Linked DNA regions of Homo sapiens: region 1 is linked to region 2. The links come from fine-mapping of genetic effects on gene expression. A gene starts in region 2. The other region holds a variant in brackets. All regions are shown on one strand. Distances are between the middles of the regions. Region 1 overlaps ZDHHC21 (zDHHC palmitoyltransferase 21). Region 2 holds the start of ZDHHC21 (zDHHC palmitoyltransferase 21).

Region 1 (11,899 bases), 31 kb before region 2:
ACGTGTTGCTTTCTAAGCTCAACACTAATAAATAACCATAAATGAATTTCATTAAAAGGAAATGTCAGACTAGGGCCCACTTTCTCAATCCCAATATAGTTCAAAATTCACCAATTTGGGAGTTTGCTTTTGTTGTTTTGTTTCCAATCTTTTGTTGTTTTGTTTCCAATCTTTTGTACTTAAAGGAACCACATGTTAATAATTGTATGCTACAACTGCTCTAATGTTAGTGGATATAAACATTTCTTTTTTTTTTTTTTTTTTTTTTTTTTGAGACGGAGTCTCGCTGTCGCCCAGGTTGGAGTGCAGTGGCGCAATCTCGGCTCACTGCAGGCTCCGCCCCCTGGGGTTCACGCCATTCTCCTGCCTCAGCCTCCCGAGTAGCTGGGACTACAGGCGCCCGCCACCTCGCCCGGCTAATTTTTTGTATTTTTAGTAGAGACGGGGTTTCACCGTGTTAGCCAGGATGGTCTCGATCTCCTGACCTCGTGATCCGCCCGCCTCGGCCTCCCAATATAAACATTTCTTACCAAATTACGCTTTTTTAGTGGAAGAAAATAGTAATAGTGGCAGAAAGAAAACATCAGTGCGTAGCAAGTAAGAAGTTCAGTGTAGAAACACAACTGCAGAAAGAGCCAATGATTATCTTCACCAACACAATTGTTAATCCTAAAGAAAAAAAATGAAAAAGAAACAATATTTTAAATTTCAAGAAGTTCACCTCAGGATCAATAAGACTAAATTAAAAACAAATAATATCACATATGCTTAACTTCATGGAGATATGCTATGGCCACTTGAAGGTAAAAACAAACTATACAGAGAAAACTATAAATATACCATCTTATATTTGTAAAGCACTTCACAAAGGAAGTCCACATATGTGATCCCCCTTCAACTCATAACAACTCAGCGAGACAGGAAGAGCAGACGGTAGTCTCCTGTGTCACTGATATGGAAACAGGGAACAAAGGAGCTAAGCCTCTGGCCAGAGGATGTAGAGTTAGAAGACATAGGGGCCAAGAGAGCAAGAACCCTGCTTCCCTGTATTTTGCTCTTCCTTTAGGGCATTCTAGCTGTGAAAAGCAATCTGAATGCCCTGAAGTAAACCAGCTGAAACATACCACTCTGACATAACTGCTAAGCATTCACTTTTCATTTTAAAAATCTACCCCTGGTTGCTGAAAATAAAAATGTATTCAAAACTATTTATAAATACACACAGCTATACTTCCACCAATACAACAGTGAACCCTAACTAGGAAAGAGGATTAATGTTACAATAAAAAATTTTCAAGGCTAATTTAAGCTGAATATTTTATTGTTCCAAATTTATTGTATCCAAATTGTCAAAGTATCCTAAAATTCCAGCAAAAAACCCTAGTTCAAGACTACAAATGACTTTGCACAAATGTTTTCATTTCAAAATAGTATTATACTGTCACTGAAAAAGAAACGATGTAACAGGTTTCGGTCCTAACTTAAATCGCTCTTTTTAACTTTGTCATTAAACCATTTTTTAAAGTCAAATACAGACCTGAACTGAAAAACCTTAGAGAGGCATTTCTTAAGATTTAAGAGTGCATGTTTTGTAAACAAGAAAATCTACTGTGCTTTGTTATTTGCAAGCAGGATTATAAGAGAAGTGTGCTTATGTATTAATATACACTCAAAAGTGCTCTTCAACAGCTGCCGATTGAAAGATGACTTATCATTGTTCCATCTTTCCTGTCCCCAGGAAGTTTGAGAAACAATGTCTATGATCACAGCATTCTTCTTAACCAGAACAGCTTTAAGAAGCACTAAGGTATTCAATCTATATGAGTTCTTTTTGTAACATCTGCACTACTTAGAAAGAATGATCAGGCCAGGCGCGGTGACTCAAGCCTGTAATCCCAGAACTTTGGGAGGCCGAGGGGAGCAGATCACCTGAGGTTGGGAGTTTGAGACCAGCCTGGCCAACATGGTGACAACCCGTCTCTGCTAAAAATACAAAAATTAGCCAAGCATGGTGGCATGCACTTGTAATCCCAGCTACTCGGGAGGCTGAGGCAGGAGAATCACTTGAGGCCAGGAGGCAGAGGTTGCAGTGAGGCAGAGGTTGAGATCATGCCACTGCACTCCAGCCTGGGCAACAGAGTAAGACTCCATCTCAAAAAAAAAAAAAAAAAAAAAAGAATGATCAGAGCCACAAATACAGAAAACCTTGAGGCAACGTGAGAATTGACCTCCAAACCTAAAAATGTCTTAGGCAGTTAAGTAGTGCAATTTCTGAAAACATCAAAAATTTTCCTTGCTTCCAATTTACACTGTACATTTCCCCTGCTCTCTGAACATTTCAGCAGTGCTCTATCAGGAAATTCAATGATAAAAATTCCTGAATCTCTTTAGGTCCCTTGTCTACTCTCCTTTCTGATCCTCCAATCCTTTGTACTTCCCCCTCACTGCTACCAACTTCTGAAAAGTTGACTAAAACTATGGAAGCAAGAGGCCCAGAAAGAGAAATCACCCCAACGTTAGAATTAAGGTTAAATAGCACCTTATTTGGTCACCAATAAGTGAGTCTTTCCTAGTTCTTTCTTACTACTGCATTCGTTTGAAAAAAAAAGCATCAATATCCACTTCCATCATGAACATTTGTATTTTAGTGAATAAGAAACTCTACAATAAGAAGCGCTTAAAAACTGAGCTTTTCTGTATGATCAGCAATTATCTGAATACATGTTTCACGTAGCTTTCTAAAAATCTATTACTATTGTGAGAGCAAACAGATCACTGAGCTTAAGAAAATTACTTGGGAATTAATCTTTATTCCCAAGTAATTCCCAAATAATTATTTACGTTTAAATTCAAGGCACAGTTTTGAATATCAACTATATGTCATACACTACTCTATCTTGTTGACAGATTTAGAAATTTTTAAAATTTTTATGTAGTAACAAAATGCTTTTATCGAAAATGCTCTTACTTTTTCCTATTTCAGGAAATTATCTTCTTTTTAAACAGTCTATGCAAAAAAACAAATTTCCACCAGAAGTTTGCTGAATAACTGTGCTATCAAAATAAGTTATCAAAAATAAAGAAAACTCTAAATAGACTAACATTAGAAAAAGCTAAACTCCACTTGCATCAATTTTAAATAAAAGCAATTATAAATTAAGAGGCTCATTATGTAAATTTGCATATATGCATGTATGTGTATACAAACATAAATACTACATATATGTATACAGATACATTTGTCAAATTCTACACTATACCAGTTTAAATATTTATACAGAGAGCCAATGCTAAGAAAACAGAATTAAATACAATATCTTGTTCACAGATTTTTGTGACAGCTTTAAAATGAGATACAATACAGAATTCACGCAGCATTTGTTTTCGAAGATTATATTTCTCAACTGAACATTTTCTTTAAATATTACAAGAGAGCCCCCTATTGACCAAAACTGTTAGCAGTTCTGCAGAATCAGCTAATTATCACTCACATACTTCCAACA[A/T]GTACATAATGGTAGTAGCTATATCCAATACATAATGCTTAAAAAGCTTTAAGGGGTAAGGAAGAGGTTATCAGGGTGTCTGAAATGTTATTAATTAAACAAATGAAAAGGGGATATAAACATTCGGATGCATATGGTTTATTACAATTAGAAATAGCTACCATTTAAGTACATCCTACTTGTCAGATATTGTAGTAAATGTTTTATATACATTGCCTCATTTAATACAACCACCTTAATCCTTTTGTATATCAGGCTGCAGTTAATTCTTACTTTTTTGGCTCAAATCTCTCCCTGTTAGAAAAGATAGGATTTCTGTGGAAAAATGACTTTGGGAGTTGACAGAACCATATAATCTAAATAAAGATATCCTTATTAAGATATTGTAAAACTATATAACTTTAACATAACTGTTGTTTAAAGCTGCCAAGTTGTAAGATTTACATTTTATTACCCACCCCTCTTTTCTTTGCTAGAAGTGAATTATTCTTACCATGGACAGTGATGATCCATTCTCCTCACACAGTGGCCGCAGCGGCTACAGTGATGGGAACGCTTTGGTCTCATCAAATTACACTTGTTACATAATTCCCAGAACTCCCTTTCTAAAGAAAAGAAATTAAAATCCATTTAATGAAGGCAAGTGGGTAATGCTGAAATTTACCAACAGTTGTTTAGAAGATTTTATAGGAAGCCTTCAACATAAAACTCTAAGAGATTTTTCTTCTAAGCCTTTGGTATAAATGTGTTTGCCATAAATGCTGCTGTTCTATTCTACATATGTCTTATTTTGTGTGTTTCTAATTTAAAAGACTAAAAAAATAAGACACTATTGTTATAGTCAAAGTAAGAGACAGAAAACAATGTATTTGGATTCTGGGTATACTGTGAGAATATAAGTAAAATCCAATGACAAAACCCTAGAGCCCAACCAAATTATTATACTAAAACAATTTTATTTAAACAAATTGATTTCTAGAAATTTCATTTTCTAAAGGCTCTAAAGAAGAAATAATGCTGACCCTGGTTTCAATTGATTAGTAAACTGAAATCAACCCTATAAACTCATCCGAAAAACAGATGGCATTTCCCTCCACATACACTTTCCCTAAATCATTTAATTTTAAAAAACATCAGTAGATTCATTTAAGAGTGTGTATGGGACAGGTTAGAGAAGGATGTCATATGGGTTTGGGAGGTATCAGAATAGTTTCAGTAGTGAAAAATGTTATAAGACAACTACTATTTTTAATGAAAATAAAGGAGTTCTTCATAAAACACTGAACTACCACCAACTAGCAATTTCCTCTAATCTGGAGTGAAACAGCACACGATTAAGCTCTGTGCCAAAAACACAAAGTTTGCATAAGAGAAAAGGCTTTTGTTTTCATTAAAAACTGTCCTAATTAGGTCCGCGAAAACTATGGAAGAGTCATCTTCCTAGAAAAGACAATTGCCTTATTATACAAAAATGTATCTTTTAAATATATTGGAATGGAATTTTTCTTTTACAAAATTCTTTTAATTTTCATCATCTGTGTTTATACTATCCCATAACCTCATTAAAAGTATGGACATAGTAAGATTAGCCTAACTCCTATATTCAGATTGAATTTTAGTACATGAAGAGTAGGACCCTAGCACATACTAGGTAGTCACTAAATGCTTGCTGACATATGAAAAGTCTAAAATCAAAAAATGAAAGATTCTAAATAAAAGTGAAAGATAATAGTAGACAATATTCAATTTTCTTTTTTTTTTCAGATTACAGATTTTTTTTTTTTTTTACCAATATTGATATTTTTATTTCTTTTTTTTCTCTTTTTTTTCTTCTTTTTTAAGATTCTCTGTTTGAATTCCATTACTTTAGTTGAATGGTCAGGAGCAACATCAACATGCTGGACTTTTATATAGTAAAGCGTTGGGAAAATACTCCCACTACAGACATCTCTGAAGAAACAAAGTATGAATAAAACCTACATCAAATTAATTGTTCCAATAATATGAAAGTTGAGAAATTATCTCTTATACTTGAAATCTTATTTTAAAAGAAAATACTTTTTCATCTCTTACAGTTATTTTAATGAAAATAAATCATGCAAGAGCAACAGTACTAAAGCTTAATTTACATAGTTAAACTAGTACTATTTACCTCTAAGTGAAATAAAAACTCATTTAATCTATAGCATATTACAATGTCACAAGCATATCATATTCCACTCCCCTACTTAGCTCAATGCTCCCAAACATCCCAGTGTTAAAACTTTGAATTCGGGGGGAGGAGCCAAGATGGCCGAATAGGAACAGCTCCGGTCTACAGCTCCCAGCGTGAGCGACGCAGAAGACGGGTGATTTCTGCATTTCCATCTGAGGTACCGGGTTCATCTCACTAGGGAGTGCCAGACAGTGGGCGCAGGCCAGCGGGTGCGCGCACCGTGCGCGAGCCGAAGCAGGGCGAGGCATTGCCTCACTCGGGAAGCGCAAGGGGTCAGGGAGTTCCCTTTCCGAGTCAAAGAAAGGGGTGACGGACGCACCTGGAAAATCGGGTCACTCCCACCCTAATACTGCGCTTTTCAGACCGGCTTAAGAAACGGCGCACCACGAGACTATATCCCACACCTGGCTCGGAGGGTCCTATGCCCACGGAGTCTCGCTGATTGCTAGCACAGCAGTCTGAGATCAAACTGCAAGGCGGCAGCCAGGCTGGGGGAGGGGCGCCCGCCATTGCCCAGGCTTGCTTAGGTAGACAAAGCAGCCGGGAAGCTCGAACTGGCTGGAGCCCACCACAGCTCAAGGAGGCCTGCCTGCCTCTGTAGGCTCCACCTCTGGGGGCAGGGCACAGACAAACAAAAAGACAGCAGTAACCTCCACAGACTTAAATGTCCCTGATAGCTTTGAAGAGAGCAGTGGTTCTCCCTGCACGCAGCTGGAGATCTGAGAACTGGCAGACTGCCTCCTCAAGTGGGTCCCTGACCCCCAAGCAGCCTAACTGGGAGGCACCCCCCAGCAGGGGCACACTGACATCTCACACAGCAGGGTATTCCAACAGACCTGCAGCTGAGGGTCCTGTCTGTTAGAAGGAAAACTAACAAACAGAAAGGACATCCACACCGAAAACCCATCTGTACATCACCATCATCAAAGACCAAAAGTAGATAAAATCACAAAGATGGGGAAAAAACAGAACAGAAAAACTGGAAACTCTAAAATGCAGAGCGTCTCTCCTCCTCCAAAGGAACGCAGTTCCTCACCAGCAACAGAACAAAGCTGGATGGAGAATGACTTTGACGAGCTGAGAGAAGAAGGCTTCAGACGATCAAATTACTCTGAGCTACGGAAGGACATTCAAACCAAAGGCAAAGAAGTTGAAAACTTTGAAAAAAATTTAGAAGAATGTATAACTAGAATAACCAATACAGAGAAATGCTTAAAGGAGCTGATGGAGCTGAAAACCAAGGCTCGAGAACTACGTGAAGAATGCAGAAGCCTCAGGAGCCGATGCGATCAACTGGAAGAAAGGGTATCAGCAATGGAAGATGAAATGAATGAAATGAAGCGAGAAGGGAAGTTTAGAGAAAAAAGAATAAAAAGAAATGAGCAAAGCCTCCAAGAAATATGGGATTATGTGAAAAGACCAAATCTACGTCTGATTGGTGTACCTGAAAGTGATGGGGAGAATGGAACCAAGTTGGAAAACACTCTGCAGGATATTATCCAGGAGAACTTCCCCAATCTAGCAAGGCAGGCCAACGTTCAGATTCAGGAAATACAGAGAACGCCACAAAGATACTCCCCAAGAAGAAAAACTCCAAGACACATAATTGTCAGATTCACCAAAGTTGAAATGAAGGAAAAAATGTTAAGGGCAGCCAGAGAGAAAGGTCGGGTTACCCTCAAAGGGAAGCCCATCAGACTAACAGCGGATCTCTCGGCAGAAACCCTACAAGCCAGAAGAGAGTGGGGGCCAATATTCAACATTCTTAAAGAAAAGAATTTTCAACCCAGAATTTCATATCCAGCCAAACTAAGCTTCATAAGTGAAGGAGAAATAAAATCCTTTACAGACAAGCAAATGCTGACCAATTTTGTCACCACCAGGCCTGCCCTAAAAGAGCTCCTGAAGGAAGCGCTAAACATGGAAAGGAACAACGGGTACCAGCCGCTGCAAAATCATGCCAAAATGTAAAGACCATCGAGACTAGGAAGAAACTGCATCAACTAACGAGCAAAATCACCAGCTATCATCATAATGACAGGATCAAATTCACACATAACAATATTAACTTTAAATATAAATGGACTAAATTCTCCAATTAAAAGACACAGACTGGCAAATTGGATAAAGAGTCAAGACCCATCACTGTGCTGTATTCAGGAAACCCATCTCACGTGCAGAGACACACATAGGCTCAAAATAAAAGGATGGAGGAAGATCTACCAAGCAAATGGAAAACAAAAAAAGGCAGGGGTTGCAATCCTAGTCTCTGATAAAACAGACTTTAAACCAACAAAGATCAAAAGAGACAAAGAAGGCCATTACATAATGGTAAAGGGATCAATTCAACAAGAAGAGCTAACTATCCTAAATATATATGCACCCAATACAGGAGCACCCAGATTCATAAATCAAGTCCTGAGTGACCTACAAAGAGACTTAGACTCCCACACATTAATAATGGGAGACTTTAACACCCCACTGTCAACATTAGACAGATCAACGAGACAGAAAGTCAACAAGGATACCCAGGAATTGAACTCAGCTCTGCACCAGGCAGACCTAATAGACATCTACAGAACTCTCCACCCCAAATCAACAGAATATACATTTTTTTCAGCACCACACCACACCTATTCCAAAATTGACCACATAGTAGGAAGTAAAGCTCTCCTCAGCAAATGTAAAAGAACAGAAATTATAACAAACTGTCTCTCAGACCACAGTGCAATCAAACTAGAACTCAGGATTAAGAATCCCACTCAAAGCCGCTCAACTACATGGAAACTGAACAACCTGCTCCTGAATGACTACTGGGTACATAACGAAATGAAGGCAGAAATAAAGATGTTCTTTGAAACCAACAAGAACAAAGACACAACATACCAGAATCTCTGGGACGCATTCAAAGCAGTGTGTAGAGGGAAATTTATAGCACTAAATGCCCACAAGAGAAAGCAGGAAAGATCCAAAATTGACACCCTAACATCACAATTAAAAGAACTAGAAAAGCAAGAGCAAACACATTCAAAAGCTAGCAGAAGGCAAGAAATAACTAAAATCAGAGCAGAACTGAAGGAAATAGAGACACAAAAAACCCTTCAAAAAATCAATGAATCCAGGAGCTGGTTTTTTGAAAGGATCAACAAAATTGATAGACCGCTAGCAAGACTAATAAAGAAAAAAAGAGAGAAGAATCAAATAGATGCAATAAAAAATGATAAAGGGGATATCACCACTGATCCCACAGAAATACCAACTACCATCAGAGAATACTACAAACACCTCTACTCAAATAAACTAGAAAATCTAGAAGAAATGGATAAATTCCTCGACACATACACTCTCCCAAGACTAAACCAGGAAGAAGTTGAATCTCTGAATAGACGAATAACAGGAGCTGAAATTGTGGCAATAATCAATAGTTTACCAACCAAAAAGAGTCCAGGACCAGATGGATTCACAGCCAAATTCTACCAGAGGTACAAGGAGGAACTGATACCCTTCCTTCTGAAACTATTCCAATCAATAGAAAAAGAGGGAATCCTCCCTAACTCATTTTATGAGGCCAGCATCATTCTGATACCAAAGCCGGGCAGAGACACAACCAAAAAAGAGAATTTTAGACCAATATCCTTGATGAACATTGATGCAAAAATCCTCAATAAAATACTGGCAAACCGAATCCAGCAGCACATCAAAAAGCTTATCCACCATGATCAAGTGGGCTTCATCCCTGGGATGCAAGGCTGGTTCAATATATGCAAATCAATAAATGTAATCCAGCATATAAACAGAACCAAAGACAAAAACCACATGATTATCTCAATAGATGCAGAAAAGGCCTTTGACAAAATTCAACAACCCTTCATGCTAAAAACTCTCAATAAATTAGGTATTGATGGGACGTATTTCAAAATAATAAGAGCTATCTATGACAAACCCACAGCCAATATCATACTGAATGGGCAAAAACTGGAAGCATTCCCTTTGAAAACTGGCACAAGACAGGGATGCCCTCTCTCACCACTCCTATTCAACATAGTGTTGGAAGTTCTGGCCAGGGCAATTAGGCAGGAGAAGGAAATAAAGGGTATTCAATTAGGAAAAGAGGAAGTCAAATTGTCCCTCTTTGCAGATGACATGATTGTTTATCTAGAAAACCCCACTGTCTCAGCCCAAAATCTCCTTAAGCTGATAAGCAACTTCAGCAAAGTCTCAGGATACAAAATCAATGTACAAAAATCACAAGCATTCTTATACATCAACAACAGACAAACAGAGAGCCAAATCATGAGTGAACTCCCATTCACAATTGCCTCAAAGAGAATAAAATACCTAGGAATCCAACTTACAAGGGATGTGAAGGACCTCTTCAAGGAGAACTACAAACCACTGCTCAAGGAAATAAAAGAGGATACAAACAAATGGAAGAACATTCCATGCTCATGGGTAGGAAGAATCAATATCGTGAAAATGGCCATACTGCCCAAGGTAATTTACAGATTCAATGCCATCCCCATCAAGCTACCAATGACTTTCTTCACAGAATTGGAAAGAACTACTTTAAAGTTCATATGGAACCAAAAAAGAGCCCGCATTGCCAAGTCAATCCTAAGCCAAAAGAACAAAGCTGGAGGAATCACACGACCTGACTTCAAACTATACAACAAGGCTACAGTAACCAAAACAGCATGGTACTGGTACCAAAACAGAGATATAGACCAATGGAACAGAACAGAGCCCTCAGAAATAATGCCGCATAACTACAACTATCTGATCTTTGACAAACCTGAGAAAAACAAGCAATGGGGAAAGGATTCCCTATTTAATAAATGGTGCTGGGAAAACTGGCTAGCCATATGTAGGAAGCTGAAACTGGATCCCTTCCTTACACCTTATACAAAAATCAATTCAAGATGGATTAAAGATTTAAATGTTAGACCTAAAACCATAAAAACCCTAGAAGAAAACCTAGGCATTACCATTCAGGACATAGGCATGGGCAAGGACTTCATGTCCAAAACACCAAAAGCAATGGCAACAAAAGACAAAATTGACAAATGGGATCTAATTAAACTAAAGAGCTTCTGCACAGCAAAAGAAACTACCATCAGAGTGAACAGGCAACCTACAAAATGGGAGACAATTTTCGCAACCTACTCATCTGACAAAGGGCTAATATCCAGAATCTACAATGAACTCAAACAAATTTACAAGAAAAAAACAAACAACCCCATCAAAAAGTGGGCGAAGGACATGAACAGACACTTCTCAAAAGAAGACATTTATGCAGCCAAAAGACACATGAAAAAATGCTCATCATCACTGGCCATCAGAGAAATGCAAATCAAAACCACTATGAGATACCATCTCACACCAGTTAGAATGGCGATCATTAAAAAGTCAGGAAACAACAGGTGCTGGAGAGGATGTGGAGAAATAGGAACACTTTTACACTGTTGGTGGGACTGTAAACTAGTTCAACCATTGTGGAAGTCAGTGTGGCGATTCCTCAGGGATCTAGAACTAGAAATACCATTTGACCCAGCCATCCCATTACTGGGTATATACCCAAAATGACTATAAATCATGCTGCTATAAAGACACATGCACACGTATGTTTATTGCAGCATTATTCACAATAGCAAAGACTTGGAACCAACCCAAATGTCCAACAATGATAGACTGGATTAAGAAAATGTGGCACATATACACCATGGAATACTATGCAGCCATAAAAAATGATGAGTTCATGTCCTTTGTAGGGACGTGGATGAAATTGGAAATCATCATTCTCAGTAAACTATCGCAAGAACAAAAAACCAAACACTCCATATTCTCACTCATAGGTGGGAATTGAACAATGAGATCACATGGACACAGGAAGGGGAATATCACACTCTAGGGACTGTGGTGGGGTGGGGGGAGGGGGGAGGGATAGCATTGGGAGATATACCTAATGCTAGATGACGAGTTAGTGGGTGCAGTGCACCAGCATGGCACATGTATACATATGTAACTAACCTGCACAATGTGCACATGTACCCTAAAACTTAAAGTATAATAAAAAAACAAATAAACAAAAAAAAACAAAACAAACAAACAAAAAAACTTTGAATTCACACATTGCAAGGAATATAGACAGGAAGGAGGCGCTCCACAACGAGCCAATTTTCAC
Region 2 (17,098 bases):
AGACTAAACACAGAATTACAAAGTTAAAGTCTGGGTATAGTGGCTCATGCCTGTAATCCCAGCACTTTGGGAGGCCGAGGTGGGAGGATCACTTGAGGTCAGGAGTTCAAGACGAGCCTGGCAAACATGGGAAAACCCTGTCTCCACTAAAAATACAAAAATAAGCTGGGCGTGGTGGTGTGTGCCTGTAATCACAACTACTTAGGAGGTTAAGGCACGAGAATCGTTTCAACCCAAGAGGCAGAGGTTGCAGTGAGCAGAGACTGTACTACAGCACTCCAGCCTGGGCGACAGGGCGAGACTTCATCTCAAAAAAACAAAAAAAAAAACAATGTTAAAGAGCTGCTACCCCAATGGCAAATAAATGAATTATTTCAGAAAAAAATTCAAACAGAATTAAATGTGGTACAACCAAACATTTTTGAAAGATGGCCAAAAACAATAATGCTACTAAGTCTATGACTTGAGAGTGGCTTCCTAATGTTTCAGCAAAATAGTAGTTTCTGTCAGTAACGTTAGTAGGTTATAGCACAGGCCAATCACCCATGAGTCAAATCCCAGTCACTTGCTGGCTTAAAATCAAGAAAAATCCTACTTTACATTTATAGTTATCAGAGCTACACTGCAGACACAGCCTCTGAAATGAGATTCGTATTTCAGTACTAGATAAACACCACTACCTCTGAGAAATGAAATCTCATCTATGTGGTAATAAAAGTAATGCTGGGCCGGGCATGGTGGCTCATGCCTGTAATCCCAGCACTTTAGGAGGCCAAGGTGGGCAGATCATCTGAGGTCAGGAGTTTGAGGCTGGCCTGGCCAACATGTTAAAACCCCGTCTCTACCAAAAATACAACAATTAGCCAGGCATAGTGGCGCCCGCCTGTAATCCCAGCTACTCGGGAGGCTGAGGCACGAGAATCGCTTGAAGCTTGAACCCAGGAGGCAGAAGCCGCAGTGAGCAGAAATCATCGTGCCACTGCATTCCAGTCTGGGTGCCAGAGTAAGGCCCTGTCTCAAAACAAAACAAAACAAAAGTAACGTTGGGCCTAAACATTCAAAAAATTGGAACAACAAAACAATTTCAAAGTTTCAAAACTATAAAATGTCATTAAATATTTTTAATATTGCTACGCCTGAAAGAATACAATCTAACAATTTACAAGCTAAGTTTTCAAACATACCAATTTTTTTTCCACAGTGCCAAGAGAAAATGCTTATTAGATGAATATATGAAATTTTAAACTTATTAATTACAGCCAAATGAATTTAGAAAGCAGAGTTACAGCTGTAAACGTATTTATAAAACTTTTTGACTTCTGATATCATTCTACTCTGAAAATTAGTCAAGTGTGGCAGTTAAATAATTCTCCATAAAAATCAAGCTCTCATTGCCAATTAGGAATTCAATTTTTTAAATATCACATAGATATTCAGTTGATTATCAACAGATTAAAAAATTAATCTTCTACAGATGTTAAAAGAGAAATTATGACATAGTCTCTTATTCACTTTCCAAGCTTTAGTTTCTTTTCAAGCTTCAGTTTGACCATCTGTAAAATGGAGATAAAAATGTCAACTTACACAGTTGCTGTCACGCTTAAATGAGAAATTGACTGGCAAAGCAGCGCCTCCAAAATGCTAACTTTACAGGGGAGCGAAGGAGAGAGCAGAGGAAGGGAAAGTGAAAGATAAGTTTTACTTCTAGTTTTACAAACTCCAGAATGAAACAACGTTTCTAGGTCCCCATCATTAAAAGTAATGAAACAGTTTAACAATACCCCAGGGCCTGCTCTTGCCTGTGATCATACCATGTTGGGAGGTGAGTAGGGGTAGGATTGCTTGAGCTAAGGAGATCCACAGCAGCCTGGGCAACACAGCCAGACCTAGCCACTAGTTAAAAAACAAACAAATGGGGGCCAGGCACAGTGGCTCATGCCTGTAATCCCAGCACTTTGGGAGGCAAAGGCGGGTGGATCACCTGAGGTCAGGAGTTCAAGACCAAACTGGCCAACGTCGTGAAACCCCATCTCTACTAAAAATACAAAAATTAGCCAGGCATGATGGTGGGCACCTGTAATCCAAGCTACTCGGGAGGCTGAGACAGGAGAATTGCTTGAACCCGGGAGGCGGAGGTTGCAGTGAGCCGAGATCACCCCACTGCACTCCAGCCTGGGTGACAGAGCGAGACTCTGTCTCAAAAACAACAACAAAAAACGAACAAACAGAAAACCAGCCGGGTGTGGTGGCACATGCCTGTAGTCCCAGCTTATTGGGAGGCTGAAGTGGGAGGATCGCTTAAGCCAGGGAGATGGAGACCAAGGCTGCAGTGAGCTGTGACTGCACTGCACTCCAGCCTGGTCAACAGAGTGAGATCCTGTCTCAAACAAAAAACAAAACAAACACAAGAACAACAAAAAATGCCCCGTTATCTACTTTTTTAAAGTCTGTGAACTAGTCAAAAAAACTTCAAATATTACAGCCCTTCGGCTAGTATCATACTAGCTGAAGTTGTATTTCTACACGTTGGTTAGGGGGATCTTTAAGAAGAAAACCGAAAATAGAGATTTGATCTAAAATAGAATGAATGAACTGAAGCCCCTAAACTAAATCACATTCAAGTAAAAGCAGGACTGGTGAGCAAAGGAATAAAGTGTGAAAGAAAATCAGTACTTGATCTCAGAAGCTAATAAAGAATGTATAATGCAAGCAGGGATTCTGAATCAATTGCTGAGTTTTCCAGGAAGACTTTGTAAAAACGTGGGTGGACAAAGTGTCAAAGCATAAAATACTTGCACTATCAATGGTTTCAAGAATCCACTCTGTAGACTAAGTCTTTAAATTACATTCTGGGCAAAATTGAGCATAAGCTGTTGCTCTTCTCATAAATTTGTTTTTGTGTGCACCAGTCTCATGAGTGAAAAATAAATGTACATGACTGTATTAGTAGTACTACACTGCAGTATTAATACTGCTAACACTATCCTAGTAGTATTACTACTAGTAGTATTAGTACTGCTAATACAGGCATTTACCTTTATTTTTCCCTGCTTGCATTAACTTGCTTTAACTTTAGAGAAAGTAGATAACTGGGCCACTGTTTTTTGGGTATGTTTGTCTGAGACAGGGTCTCACTATGTTGTCCAGGCTGGAGTGCTGCAATCACAGCCCACTGCAGCCTCAGTCTCCATTCTCCCTGGCTCAAGCTCACTTCATTAGAATCTTCTAACAAAAAGTAAAAATAGCTTGGGAGGTGTGGGGTGATACGAATTAAAGACCACCAAATATTGTTTCAGTCAGTACAAAAGGTCTCTGTGGGAATTTTCATTAGGGAGATAGGAGTGGGAAAAGGGACTGAAAAGGCAAGATTAAATGTAGGATAGGGACAGGGATTTAAAAAGGTAACTTTTGTTCCAAAATCAGCACAAGGAAAAAACCTTCAGATACAGTAAAAGCCAGAAATGAAGAGGCCCAGGCTTTTCCTGGGTATGAATCAAGTATGTTCTTCCAAGAAGGAAGGGAAGCCTGCTACTTACCTTCTAGTACCCACCACACCAAGAGAGATTGGTGGGGGGTTGGGGGTAGAAGACTAAATTAGATTTCCTTCACACCAGGCTTTACCAAAGCAGCCATGATTTAAGAACACTAACACCATAAGAAAAATCTCTCCTCACCTGCTTGCTGAAGCTGAAAATCCTGCAGTAAGTGAAAAAGTTCTTCATTCTGTAATTACAGATAAAAAGCTTAAAATCAGAAGCTTGGTTGACATCACACTTGAGCATTTTAGGTTAGATTTAAAATAAAATTCACCAGTGAATGGTAAAATATCAATTTTACCCAACCTGCCCTTTTGTAGAAGGGGCAACACATCGGTTAAGAGAGTCTCTGAAATGGGGAAGAAGGTTAATCTACCCTGAGAGAAATAGCACAGAGGAAAAAGCAGCTTGAAAGGCAGAAGGCAAACTTCAAAAATGTCACAATTTTGCCTAGGTTAGGTCTAAAGAGCAAAACAAACACATAAAGTACCATCATACTAAGGTATTTTTGTTCAGGGACCTATCAATGAGCACAGTGATGATTCACATGTCTATGAAAATGTGCTTTTTAAACTAGTCTGACTTGACTTATCAAGAATTCTTAACAAATCACTTTCAACAATAAAAACTGTTTTACAATTTCACCTGTATTTTTACCTTTAATAAGAGTTATTTAAGCACTGATTATTCTACTAGATGCTAAATTGCCTATTATATTTAATGCATGTGAAAAGTTGAATCTGAGCCCTAATGTTTTACTAAAACAACATAAAAGGTTACATTCCTTAATATAAAAGTAAAACTGAATTTAGGGAACAAACTCTTGGCAATAAAAACAGCCTTTCCTCTGCCTTCCCTCTTTTGCCTGGTAGTATTGATACTGCCACTGTGTCACCTCCTATGCTAAAAAAGTTTTCACTGAGTCACATTCAATTACAATTCCAGAAAAACAGCTCCATGTTGAGACATTACTCAACTTCTCAAGCAGTTTCTTTACTAAACCACTATATAATAAGACTAGCAGGAGGACAAACAATAAACTGCTCCTTTATTGACCTTCTCACTCCTCTCCTCTCAACCCAAAGAGGTTTTCGGGAAAATGGCTTATGGATGGCAGCAGTTTGCACTTGTTACTATTCACTATAACAGGTCCCTGGATTGTAACTGCAGAGACCATTTGAGTTACGGTCTTTTTCAAGCTATATGTGGGTCACATTTTATAAAACCATTATTTTATTCATGCATTTTTCCACAGGTTCTGAATCGGTCATTACGAATTAAAGAAATGAGGCAGTAGGCAAATAAGAAGTACATGTTATGATTCATTGATTCTTGTCTCAGAACTTCCTGTTAAGCTGATTATATGTCTGCATTTTTAAATGCTTAGATTTCTCTTATTAAACAAAGTACCTCGTAGGCAAAAGTGACACGGTCCTCATCATTTTCTTTAAATGACGCTCTATTTCATTTATTCCAACTACAGCTTCTCAAGTATGTTAACAGAAATCTCAGTAGTGTCAAAGGATCTAATAGAATTGTTTCCATCGAAAATGATGAATTCTGGAAGAGTACTACACCAAAACAATTATGGAATTATACATTTTAACTTATATTTTCATATTTTACTAATACTTCGTATATGTTTTTAATGTACCTTCAAACCACGTTAAAGGGTCTTATTTAAAAACATTTTCCAAGTAAGCATGGAAAAGCTAAAATAAGCCTTAAATAATTTAGTCTGGCTCTCTGATGGTATAGAGAAAATAACATGGGTCATTGCCCTACCTGTAAACCCACAGCTGGATAGTGACAGAAATGGGACTAGAATCTAGTTTTTCTTTCCACGACACCAAATCTCATTTGGCTCTTTCTTTCCAGTGGATTTCTCACCTCAATTCTTCAAATATCTTTTTGCTTTTAAGAGATGGCACAAACTAAGGAAAAACAGAGCATCTCTCCGAATTTTACCTTTAAAATAAGTAAAATCTAAAGAGTTGGAAGAATTTAATATTACACCAAAAGCCTTTTAATCCAGGAATGGCGCATACTAAGCAGTCATCAAATGGTGACTGTTATTAATATTATTCTTACCACAAGGAAAGCAGTGAATTTTTAAAAGTGCATATATTAGCATAGTAGGCTGAGGACCTATTTAACACATCTTTTTAAATTGCACTTAATTATCCTTAGTCGCCTTTGGACTGTAACTTTACAATATAATTTATGACCCGCCCACAATGACCTTGATTTTTTTTTCTCTTCTACTTTTAGAGACTGCTATATTGCAATATTTTAAAGTAATAATTGGTCATGTCCTCTCAGCCCTGGTGATACAGACATCCACCCTGACTCTCAAGGGATCTTAAAATGTGACCCACATATAGCTTGAAAAAGACCGTAACTTAAATGGACTCTGCAGTTACAATCCAGCGACCTGTTACAGTGAACAGTAACAAGTGCAAACTGCTGCCATCCATAAGCCATTTTCCGAAAACCTCTTTGGATCAAGAGGAGAGGAGTGAGAAGGTCAATAAAGGAGCAAACTGTTTGTCCTCTCTGCAGCTTCACACCAGAAGTCTGGAATGAATGAAAAGCTCTGGAATAGCACAGAGAAACCCGGGATCCCAGTGCAGGTCTCCAGACGGGGGTGCGGGGAGAGAAACTGTAGTTTACAAGCGAGAAACTCAGGATACAGATTTAAAATAAATAAATAAATAACTAGCCAACATCGTCTCGACTAGAGCAGGAACCCCCCACCCCCAGTTGAGGGAGGAGCACTTAGCAAGGGGCTGTAGCTCTAGCAGAAGACGCTCTGAAAAAGGCCAGGCCTGGGGCGGGGAGGCACCGAGAAACCCCCGGGTTCCAAACAGAGCAGGTGCAGGGGGCGTGCAGGAACAGGTGAGGGCGTCCCGGCGCGGAGGAGCGGCGGGCGGGCCCGGCAGAGCGGAGCGGGGGCCGGGGATGGGGGTGGGGGTGCGGATGGGGATGGGGGTGGGGGCGGCCGCTTCGCCCCCGCGCCTGCACACTCACCGTCGCCGCTGGCTCGCCTCTCGCTGCCGCCGCTCTCCCGACCGCCAGCAGCTCTTTCCCCTCCTCCTGCCGCGCCACCTCCGCCTCCTCCGGCGCCGCCGCCCAGGCCGGGCCGCTCTCCCCTTCCGCTTCCGGGAGCCTGAGGGCCTGGACCGGCCGAGTGGGTGTCCGCATGCCCGCGCGCCCGCGTGGGGAGGGACGACTGCCGCCGTCGCCGTCTCGCTTAGCTCCCGGGAGCCGCGATGGGAGCCGCTGAGGGCCGAAACTCCTGCAATCGCGCCGCAGCCCCAGAGCCGCGGACCCAGGCAGACCGCACTCTCCAGAGCGCTTGCACCTGGCGCGCCTGGGCGCCTCTGCCCCTCCCCAGCCCTACTTGAGCCGTCCTTCTCATTGTCCCCATATCCTCACTGCTCACCTCTCCCGAGAGACAGGATGGGGGCCTTAGCTTAAAAGATTGCATGTATCCTTTCTTCGGGGGATGTGGCCAGCAGGCCTCTCTCCCCGCAGGTGTTCTGGGATGTCCCATGGTACCTTGCTTCAAAGCGCGGTCTGCAGCATCAGCATCCTCTGGGAACTCACAATCTTTGAAATGCACAATTTCAGGCCTGCTGAATCAGTACATGCACTTCAGCAAGATCACCAGGTGACTCCTGGGGTGCACCGTAAAGATGGAAAAGCATTGCACTGTAGTGCATGGTCTCGTCCACTTCAGACCCTCTATTGGGTTGCCTCAGACATCCCAGGATATTTCCTGTTCCTGTCCTCAACCTAAATCCACACCCAAACAATCTTTTCTTATATTTTGGGAGACCTCCAAAAGTTTCCTGCTTTCCCATCCCTGCAAAAGCCGACAACTTTTGGACTCAGCGATGCAAGTAATCCACCTCTCAGTCTAACTTGGTATCTTCACCAAACACCAGAGATCTACTAACTTTCCCACCTCACTCCGGCTGAACAGTATTTGGGGAAGGTTAAACCGTTTGCAGTAATGTGGAGCTAGATCTTTCTGCCCACGTGCCACAGGAGGAGACAGTGTGTTGGTGGAAGAAATATTACCTGTTGTATAAAATCTGTATTCCTTATAAGATGTGCTTAAAAGCCCTCCACAGACACATCCCTACCTACCTCTCCAGTCTTAGCTCCAACTAATTTGGTTCATTTCCCCATTCTAGAATGCCCTGCTCTCTGATGATCTTAACCCTATCCAGATTTGAGAGTGGAAATCTTGCCAAACCAGAGTTCTCTCACCACTGCCCTTATATAGTGCACATTGTTGCCTGTTTGGGGCCTCATATTACCTTGTATTGCTAAGGATTTTTAAACATGTTGTGTCCTGGTTTCTGAACTAATTATAAACACCTTGTGACCTTAAAAACTTTGGTCAGTGGTTATCAAAGTGGGATCCCTAGACCAGCAGCATCGGTATCACCTGTCAACTTGTGAGAAATCCATATTCTTTTGCCCCATCCCAGATCTACTGTAGTAGAAACTGTTTAGGTGTAGCCCAGCAATCCGTGATGTAACAAGCCTTTTAGGTGATCCTAATACACACTCAAGTTTTAGAATTACTGACCTAGATTACTAGATATTCCCAAAAGAACCCAGTGGTAGGAATTGATTTACCCATAAGCAGATTTTATTGCCTTTCAGGTTAACAAATACACTCCCCGATATATGCATAGCGAGGTTGAAAGACTAGTCACGATTGCTTTTGATAGAATTACCTTTATTTTTCATAAATCATTTGATGTAGTAGGATTTTTGTAACTTTCTCTGTTTGAAAAGAAGGAGATATTTCATATAAACAATCACTTTGAAGGAAGAGGAAATGTGGAATCCTCCCACCGGAATCCAGCTACCTGATTGCGTATTCAATGTGAATCCCTTCTACCCAAATCCAGCTACCTGATTGCATATTAAATGTGGACTCCTCCCTACCCGAATCCAGCTACCAGAATTGCATATTAAATGTAAAATCCCCCCCCCACCCAAATCCAGCTACCCAATTGCATATTAAAAGTAGAATCCCCTCCACCTGAATCCAGCTACATGAATTGCATATTATTTTGCTTTCTCTTCAGATACCCCTGTGAGAGGGAATAATTTGTGACAAGTGATCTCAAAACTGCCAAAATAAGAATTAGTTGACAGGTCCATGATTGCACATGACAATTGGAAGTGCATGGATTTTTCAGTCCCTTTTTAAAATAAGTTAGCCTGTCTTTTATCAGCCAAATCAATTCCACAGAGAATTTTTAAGCAAGGGAATAGGAGAGAAGAGGCAGGAGAAACATCCTTAAAAACATGAACCTTTTTAGCATGGGCATTTCATGAGTATAATCAAAGGCCTGCCTATCCCTTACACTGAAGGTCAAGTCATCTGGTTCTATCATTCATGCTAATCATTGGTTATATTGTATTGCAACCCATACATTCAGGCACCTGGGTAACAATAAGGGGGTGAGGGAGATGTGGCATCAGGTAATCTTTTGAAAAGATTTTCTATTTACTGGGTATATTATGGAAAGACGATATAGATCGTACCATATTTTTTCCCTCCAGAATTCTAATCTACTTCATGGGGCCTGGGACAAACTGAAATGTGATTATTAATCAAACTAATATTTATCTGGAAGTAGAAAAAGTAGACAAGGACAAGTAGCATTGCTGCCACTGCCAACCAAGCTTCTAACAAAGGCACACTCAGGGCATTTATGAGGGTAAACACAGCCAACTCCTGTGCTTCTGTGCCGTGACTAGGGAGGATCTGGATTTTAGTGCAATTTCCAAAAATCAGTGCAGTCCAGAGTTTAATCAGTACTGGCTAATAGCCCTTGGCAGCTTTGGATGGATGGCATTCTCCACCTGCCCAGCTGGGTACCATGCCTTAAGCACCCATATTTGATGCACATTCATGATTTCTTGGTTGCCTATAGTTGTCTCTCCCATCTGTTTGAGTGGCAGAGTGCCTGTGCCATAACAATCTAATATTCTAAAAGTTGTTCTTAACCTCTTCTCTTTTGGGTTACACATCTCTTTGAGTATCTGATGAAAGTTGTGGACCCCAGCAAAGTACACATATACACAAATACACACACACACACACACACACACACATATATACACACACACATACAGGAACATATATATTTATATATATGAAATTTATATATATGAAGTTTCACAAGTTGCCCCACCTTCCTATGCCTCCAAAGGATCACAGCGAAGCCAGGAACTTCAGGCTAAGAAATATCCCTAGAATGTAGAGAGTAGGTAAAATAAACATTTTTCCCCAAATATCAAGGAAAACTGCAAAACAAACAAACAAAAACGACTGTGTGCTTAGGAGAAAAAAACAATAGCAGTGCTAAACAGAGTTACAAGGAAAGTTTTATGGAAGTGCTAATGAAGAAACTAGTAATTTCCATGGGATAGTTCAAGGGTGGCTTCTTGGAGAATGGTTCCTGTATCAGGCAAGTGAGAATAGGATTTTGATTGGGGGAAAGGAGGGAAAGAAATTTCAGGACAGAGGAAAGTGTAAGCAAAAACATAGAGAAATGAAAGTGCAAGAATCCCTCTGGTGTGGCTCAAAGGTAGGATACATGGAAAGAGAGAGGGCTGGAAATGTGGAACAGATTCCAAGCATGGTGAGCCTCAGAAACAATGCTATTCCCAATGAAGAGTCCTTAGGCTTTTGGCAAAAGGTGATGACCTGCTCCAAGCTGGAAAAGACTATTAGTGAGGGCAGTGGTATTATCAAAAGGCAGAGTAGTGGGGCATCTGGAAAGGTTCTAAGTATACTACATTGGAACCTGTTAGGCCACATTGCTTTACCTCAACTTTGGATTGTTTGATGGTGGCTCTAGAAGTTTCTATTCAATTAAATCATGATGAACCTGAGATTCTTACACTTGGTTAAGTGCTAGTAGGAAAACGCATCCTAGTGAATGTTCTGATGAGTTGAGTCTAGGATGCTGAAAGAGTTAAAATCTCTTTTGGATTAAAAGAGTGAGAATCAATTTGGACTGAAAAGAGAAAAGAAGCCCTGCCACTAATCAGACAAGGAGGACAGACACAGATAAAGCCAGCTGCAAAATTAGCAGGAAACACTTTCTGCCAAGGTCATGCAGCAGTTATAAAGTGCCATAATGATCCCCTCTTTAGGTGATTGCTGACTTCTCACCAATGATGCCCCTGACTGCTGGCTATTTTCATTTATTACTAGAGATACCCAATTGCTCAGCCATCATCCCCTCATGACAGCATCCAATCCTGGCTAAATCTCTCTTTTCCTAATCCCACCTCAAAACAACCAATCCAAAATGGATACCTGCTTCCCTTAGATGCTCCTCAAAATTCTTCAATGGAAGTTCAATTTACAAAAGATGCCTCCTTCCTCCCTCTTGCCTAGGAGTGACATCTCTCTATGCAAGGCAATAAATATGAGTTTGTCAGGCTACAGGTGTAATCCTCTAGGTTTTAACAACTCATTTGATGATGAAAGTTTTCCACTCCCCAGGACTCAAAGTCAAGAAAGAGTCTCCCTTTCCGTGTCAATAGCACAATAAAGTAGCTTCCATTACAAGTAATAAGGCTCATAAGTTCACACAGGGACTCTTCCAATATGGGAGGAAGCAAGGCTTTGACTAGGTCATCCTCATCCCTCATCTTTTGAAGAAATGTGGATTGATGTAGAAAGCAGAGGAAACAGGTGCTTTCTAAAAAAAAATTGTGAGTAGAGTCTATTCACAACAGCTTAATTTAAGTAAATAGAATTAACAGAGTCCCAAGATAATAGGGAAGTAAAATGGGTATAGAAAAGTGATTTAAAAAGTCCTTCCCTATCAAAATATAAATAACATATTAAAAGTAGGACAATTTTGATGGTGCCAACCTCTTTGCATGAAGGACGGAGATTGAGATTTTTGTTGAGAGAGTTCATTATAAAGAAAATAGCAAAAAGGAAACAAATGTCCTAGCAATAGATAAATAAAGTGGGCGTCTATGGCTGAACTAGGGAAGCAAGTTCAAGGTTGCAATATGGCTTCAGGGAATCTCTGCCAGCAGGAACAATTGAGAATGTAAGAGTGGATTTGGTCACCAAGAAATGGGATGCAGTAGGAGAAGAGAGCGAAGGGCAGAAACAACCACAGTACCTTTAAGGATCAGATAGAGAAAGAAATGATTCAAGAATCTCCTATGTTTCAACTACTTCCAAGTCAATATATCCAGCCCTGCACTCTATTGGGCTCCAGAGCCATAAATTCTAGAAGCCCCACTACACACTTGTTATGATGGCTCAAATGGGTGCGAAGTCTGTAGGACCAGTCATGAAAAATAAGAGAGTACTGCTGTTCTCACACATATCAGGTTAAGGTTCTGTGTCTCCCTTCCTCTAAGAGACTACTTCTTGTTTGTTTGCAAGGAAAATAAAAAATATCTACTAATCTCTTGGATAGTGCCCCTTTTATTTTTAATCTCTTTGCCCCTCAAATATATATATATATATGTCTTCATTAATAACTTAGCGAGAAAGTTGTCACTTTGTACCCCAGATAAAGCAAAGGAAGTTGTAAATGGTTTTATCATTGGCCCACAATTTCTGCCACAGGAAGACTAAATGATTAAAAAAAAAAAATCAGAAGTTTCTGCCTTGACTGGGAAGTTATCAGGGACATCTCTGCAGAGATTTGGCTATAAGAACAAAGGTCATACATCTATCCTTGTTCACTCCCATACATGAAGGGAGAAATGACAAATTGGGGGTCTAGCGCACTTTGCATGCATTCTTTAAAGGATCAGATATAGTTTTGTTTGTTTGTTTGTTTGTTTTTGAGATGGAGTCTCTGTTGCCCAGGCTGGAGTGCAGTGGCATGATCTCAGCTCACTGCAACCTCCATCTACCAGGTTCAAGTGATTCTCCTGCCTCAGCTTCCCGAGTAGCTGGGACTGCAGGCGTGCACCACCATGCCTGGCTAATTTTTGTATTTTCTGTAGAGACAGGGTTTCACCATGTTGGCCAGGCTGGTCTTGAACTCCTGACCTCAGGTGATCCACCTGCCTCGGCCTCCCAACATGCTGGGATTATAGGCATGAGCCACCATGCCCGGCCAGATACAGCTTTAGCTTTGTGGTCTAGTCTTTGTTGCAATTATTCAGTTCTGTCATTGGATTGCCAAGTCGCCATAGACAATATGTAAATGAATGGACATGGCCATGCAACAATAACATTTTATTTACAAAAACGAGCAGCAGCCCATATTTGGTCCCCATGAATCAGAGTTTGTGAATTCCTGCTTTGTGAATGATTGGAAACTCTTCGCCTCAGAATGGAGGAGGATATAGTGGAGGGAGATTGCCTGGTTTTGTTCCCTGATTCTAACACTACTAAGTATGTGTTACTTAATTACTGATGCCTTCGTTTCCTCATCTGTAAAAAATGGATAATAATAGTCATCATATTAGATTGTATGAAGATCAAAGGAATCAATATATGTCAAGCACTTAAACCTGAATCTGGCATGAGAAATGACTCAGTAACTATTATGACAATTACCTTCAGGTGGAAGGCTGAAGCCAGTGGTGGGTAACATCTAAATATGATTTGCACATTGCTTTGGATAAGAAATAAGAGTATACAAAGGCCTTTCACTGGCTTTTATCTCTTGCTGTCCCACAAATTTTTACCTCATTGGCATTTTAAAAATCAAAAGAGCCCTATTCCAAAGCAAAGAGAAAATCCCAGTTATGGCAGGTCCCAGAAGAATGTTTCCACAAACCTTCAGACTCAACGTGTTCAAAAACAAATCTTTCATTACCACCCCAGCTCTATTTCTCCCCCTAGTATTGCAATTTCAGAAACATCTGTTGTCTAAGCTTGAAAACTAAGAAGTTCTGTCTCCTCCCTCTCAATCCATTCACACCCAGTCACCAAACTCGATCAATTTCACTTCCACAAGATCCTTCGAAGCCATTCATTTCTTTGCATTCCTACAGCACTGAGTTCAGGTTGTCATTATTTTTCACCTGTACTACAGCAGTAGTCATCCTATCCCTAATCTTGCCCCCAACCCATCTGTTTTGCACAATATCACTCATGAACTCTTTCATAAAAGCAAACCTAACCACTCTCATCACTCTACCCATGTCTTTATTGTAAAATGAAAGCTTAGCGTGGCATAAAAGTTCCTTAACAATCTGACCTCTTCAGTCTCATCTCTGCTGCCATCTCTCAACTCCTTCCTCTGCTTTTCCTTCCAGTGTATGTTACAGTAGCACTAAACTGCTTGCTGGCCCATCATTTTCCCTGCCTTCTCAGCTGCTAACTCTGCACTCCTCTTTCAGATCTCTGGTAGTCTCTTACTGCTGAACAACCAGACTAACTTAGGCACCTTCTATTGGGCTTCCACAGGATTCTCTTGACTCATCTATCACAGATCTTACCATGCTGTAATGATCTGTTTGCTTATAAATATTCCCCAGAAGACAGTGAGCTCCAGGAAAGAACATATCCAGTCTTATTTGTGTTTGTCTTTCCGTTGCTTCCCACAACTCTATATCCATTATAGGTGTCCAGTAGTTTGGTTGAATTAATATACAATGAAACTAAAAAGTACAAAGGAAGAATGAGAGTGATTGGCAGGCCCTTGGAGGAGGGATCTATATCTGGTCTTTGATACCAAAGGGTTTGCAAAAGTCCAGGGAGGGGAGGAAATTGGTGGAGGACAGGCAGGGATCTGAAAGTCTGAAGAAAGGTTGAACATAAGGCATGAGAAAAGACCATTAGATTTAGTGAGCAGGATTTTCCTGGAAAACTCAAGAGTAGATTTTTAATAACTAGGTAATTAAACTGAGAAGAGAGATTATTTAGAAATAGAGACAGTAGGCATAGCTGGTTTTGAAATGAGTTAATGGATTGTCTCCTGTTTGTGTTTTAGGATGAGGAAGCATGAGTTATCTCTAAGATAAGATCATAAAAAGAGAAGAAAGACAAGTTAGAATTAAGAGTTAAAGTATGGGGCAAGAGCACCAGTAGAATCAAGAGTCCAGATAAGAGGATTCTCTTTGCTAGGAGAATAGCTACTTAATCTTCAAAGTCAGAAGCAAAAGAAGAGCCAGAGAGTACCCAAGTGGGAGATTTTGAAAGAGTGAAGAGGAAAGCTGAGAGCTTCAATCTAATGGCTACCCTCAGCTACATGTGGACACAGAATGGGAAGTGCTGAGCTCTCAGAAAGTCAAAGGAAAGAGGAGAGTGCTGAGCTCTGGGAAAGGAGATGAAAAGGCAGAAGGAGACAGTACTTCTTCACTTTGCTCAGGTGAAGAGAATGTTGAATACAGAAATGAATCTCCAAGTCCTTCAAGGAAAATCCTGGTACCAAAAGTAACAAAAGAAATACTTTCTGTTATATCTTATGGCTCCAAAACACTTTATAGAATTAACTTTTGTTGGTTTACAAATATACTATAATAATTCAACATACCTGCTTTGAGTTCATTGTACCTACACCTAATAAATGGGAAAATTTAGGCCACCTGGAATTTCACCTTTTGACACATCGTGGGAAGCCTCAGCCTTAGGTGATAAAAAACATGGTTCACATGGATGCAACAGCAAATAGAGATGCGTGAGAAAATCCCATAGGCAATACGGGCTCAAAGTGTGGTGATGAATGGCCTGAGGCAAGCAAACACTATCAAAGAATTCAGTGGAATCAATGGTAAAAGATTGACCAACTACTTAGAAGACACTGACCACATGTGGGATTTATTAACTACCTATGCTGCTTCAGGTAGCAAGACCTACCAAACTCACACATATCTACATATTCTTTGTCAAGGAGTAAGTTGCACTACAACTGCATTACAAAAACAAAAAAGTCACTTCCAAATTCATATCTGCTCTAGCAGGCAACCTTCTTACTAACTCCTCTGTCTTCTTTCCCACTTTTTGCTGTTTGGGAAGAACCTGGAGATAAAACTCTACAAAACCACATAGGCAAATAACGACATGGGGTCAACCTCAGGTTTAGAAAACCCTGCCCCCAGAAATCATCCCCAGGCCTGGATTTGTGAAAGCCAGCATTCTGAGAGACTCTTTCCTAAAACCATCTGATCACAGTTGTACTGTCATTTATTAATTACCACGGGAACCACCAACTGTCATCATGAAATCTTTTATAGGCATACTGTAAATATTAAAAGAGCATATTAAAGTTATACCATATGCAGCAGCAGCTGATGCTATTTTATGAAGACAATATTAGAGAGTATGCAGAATTATCACACTACAACGCCCATGATCTCTATTTCTTACAGCTGCCCTGGAGCATGACGCTGGGCCACAATTTTAACTCTTTAATCACAGAGGGGAGTAATTTGACTGATCATTTACACTGAAGCAAACTTTATCACTTAAACCAGGGTATATAGTTAATTACATGGATGCCTTTTTGTACATTCACCAGTCAACTTTTTATTATGAAAATGAGAGCAGGAGGATTTTCTTTGAAGTTTCCTAGGGAAGGAAAGAGTGTTTCCCCTGTCTTATAGTTGAAATCAGTGTGTAGGAGTGGCTCCTAGAAGCCACATGACCTATCTGCGTTAGCTTAGACTGTGTGTCAAGTGCAGTGGCCATTCTGGCAAGATAGCACATTTGTCTGATGAACTTTGTGAAGTCAACCCAAAGCTAACTTGAGGCTTATTTGGGTTGTCTCATAAGACCTGCTGCTTGCTCCCCCAAAATCTTCCCCATTGGTCTGTCACAATATCTGAAACTTGTCCCACTGTACTTGAGAGAGAGACAACTAGGTCTAGAATCTTCTGTTAAAATGCAAAATATAGATGATAGTTTGGAAATACTGTTAATTATCTTAGGAGTGATTATAGTATTCTAATTATATAGGAGGATATTCTTATTCTTAGGAGATGCATGCTGGAGTATTAAAGTGGAAGTGTCAGCCAGGCGCAGTGGCTCATGCCTGTAATCCCAGCACTTTGGGAGGCTGAGGCAGGCGGATCATGAGGTCAGGAGTTCGAAAACAGCCTGGTCAACATAGTGAAACCCCCATCTCTACTAAAAAAAATACAAAAAATTAGCTGGGCATGGTGGCAAGTGCCTGTAATCCCAGCTACTCAGGAGGCTGAGGCAGGAGAATCGCTTGAACCCGGGAGGCGGAGGTTGCAGTGAGCCAAGATCGCACCATTGCCCTCTAGCCCAGGTGACAGTGCAAGACTCCGTCTCAAAAAAAAAAAAAAGTGGAAGTGTCTTGATATTTGAAATTTACTTTCACATGTTCAAACAATACAGAAATATGTAGTGAATACACATATACACTCATTCATACAAGTTGAGATATAAAGCAAATATGACAAAATGCCAACAAATTGTTGAATTAAGGTAGAATGTATAGAAGTATTTTTGGTACTTTTTTTCAGCTTGGTTTTAAAATCTTCATGACTAAAAAGGGAAAAAAACTCAGATATCTGAGCATACCCCCAAACCCACTGAATCAGCATCCTTGGGTATGGAACCC

The links.
Region 1: its variant is fine-mapped to the expression of ZDHHC21 in cerebellum (GTEx, PIP above 0.99).

Annotation. Positions count from the first base shown.
Region 1 is chr9:14,658,219-14,670,117 of GRCh38, forward strand. ZDHHC21 (zDHHC palmitoyltransferase 21) reads right to left here. Exons shown (of 10, transcript NM_178566.6): 6 at 3,997-4,108; 7 at 531-669. Among named protein-coding and RNA genes, the nearest start is that of ZDHHC21, 29 kb to the right of the region's middle. The variant A/T (reference allele first, on the strand shown) is at 3,504.
Region 2 is chr9:14,686,663-14,703,760 of GRCh38, forward strand. It overlaps ZDHHC21 (zDHHC palmitoyltransferase 21), which reads right to left and starts at 6,770. Exons shown (of 10, transcript NM_178566.6): 1 at 6,567-6,770; 2 at 3,675-3,723. RefSeq lists silencers at 6,412-6,551, 6,632-6,701 and an enhancer at 6,775-7,275.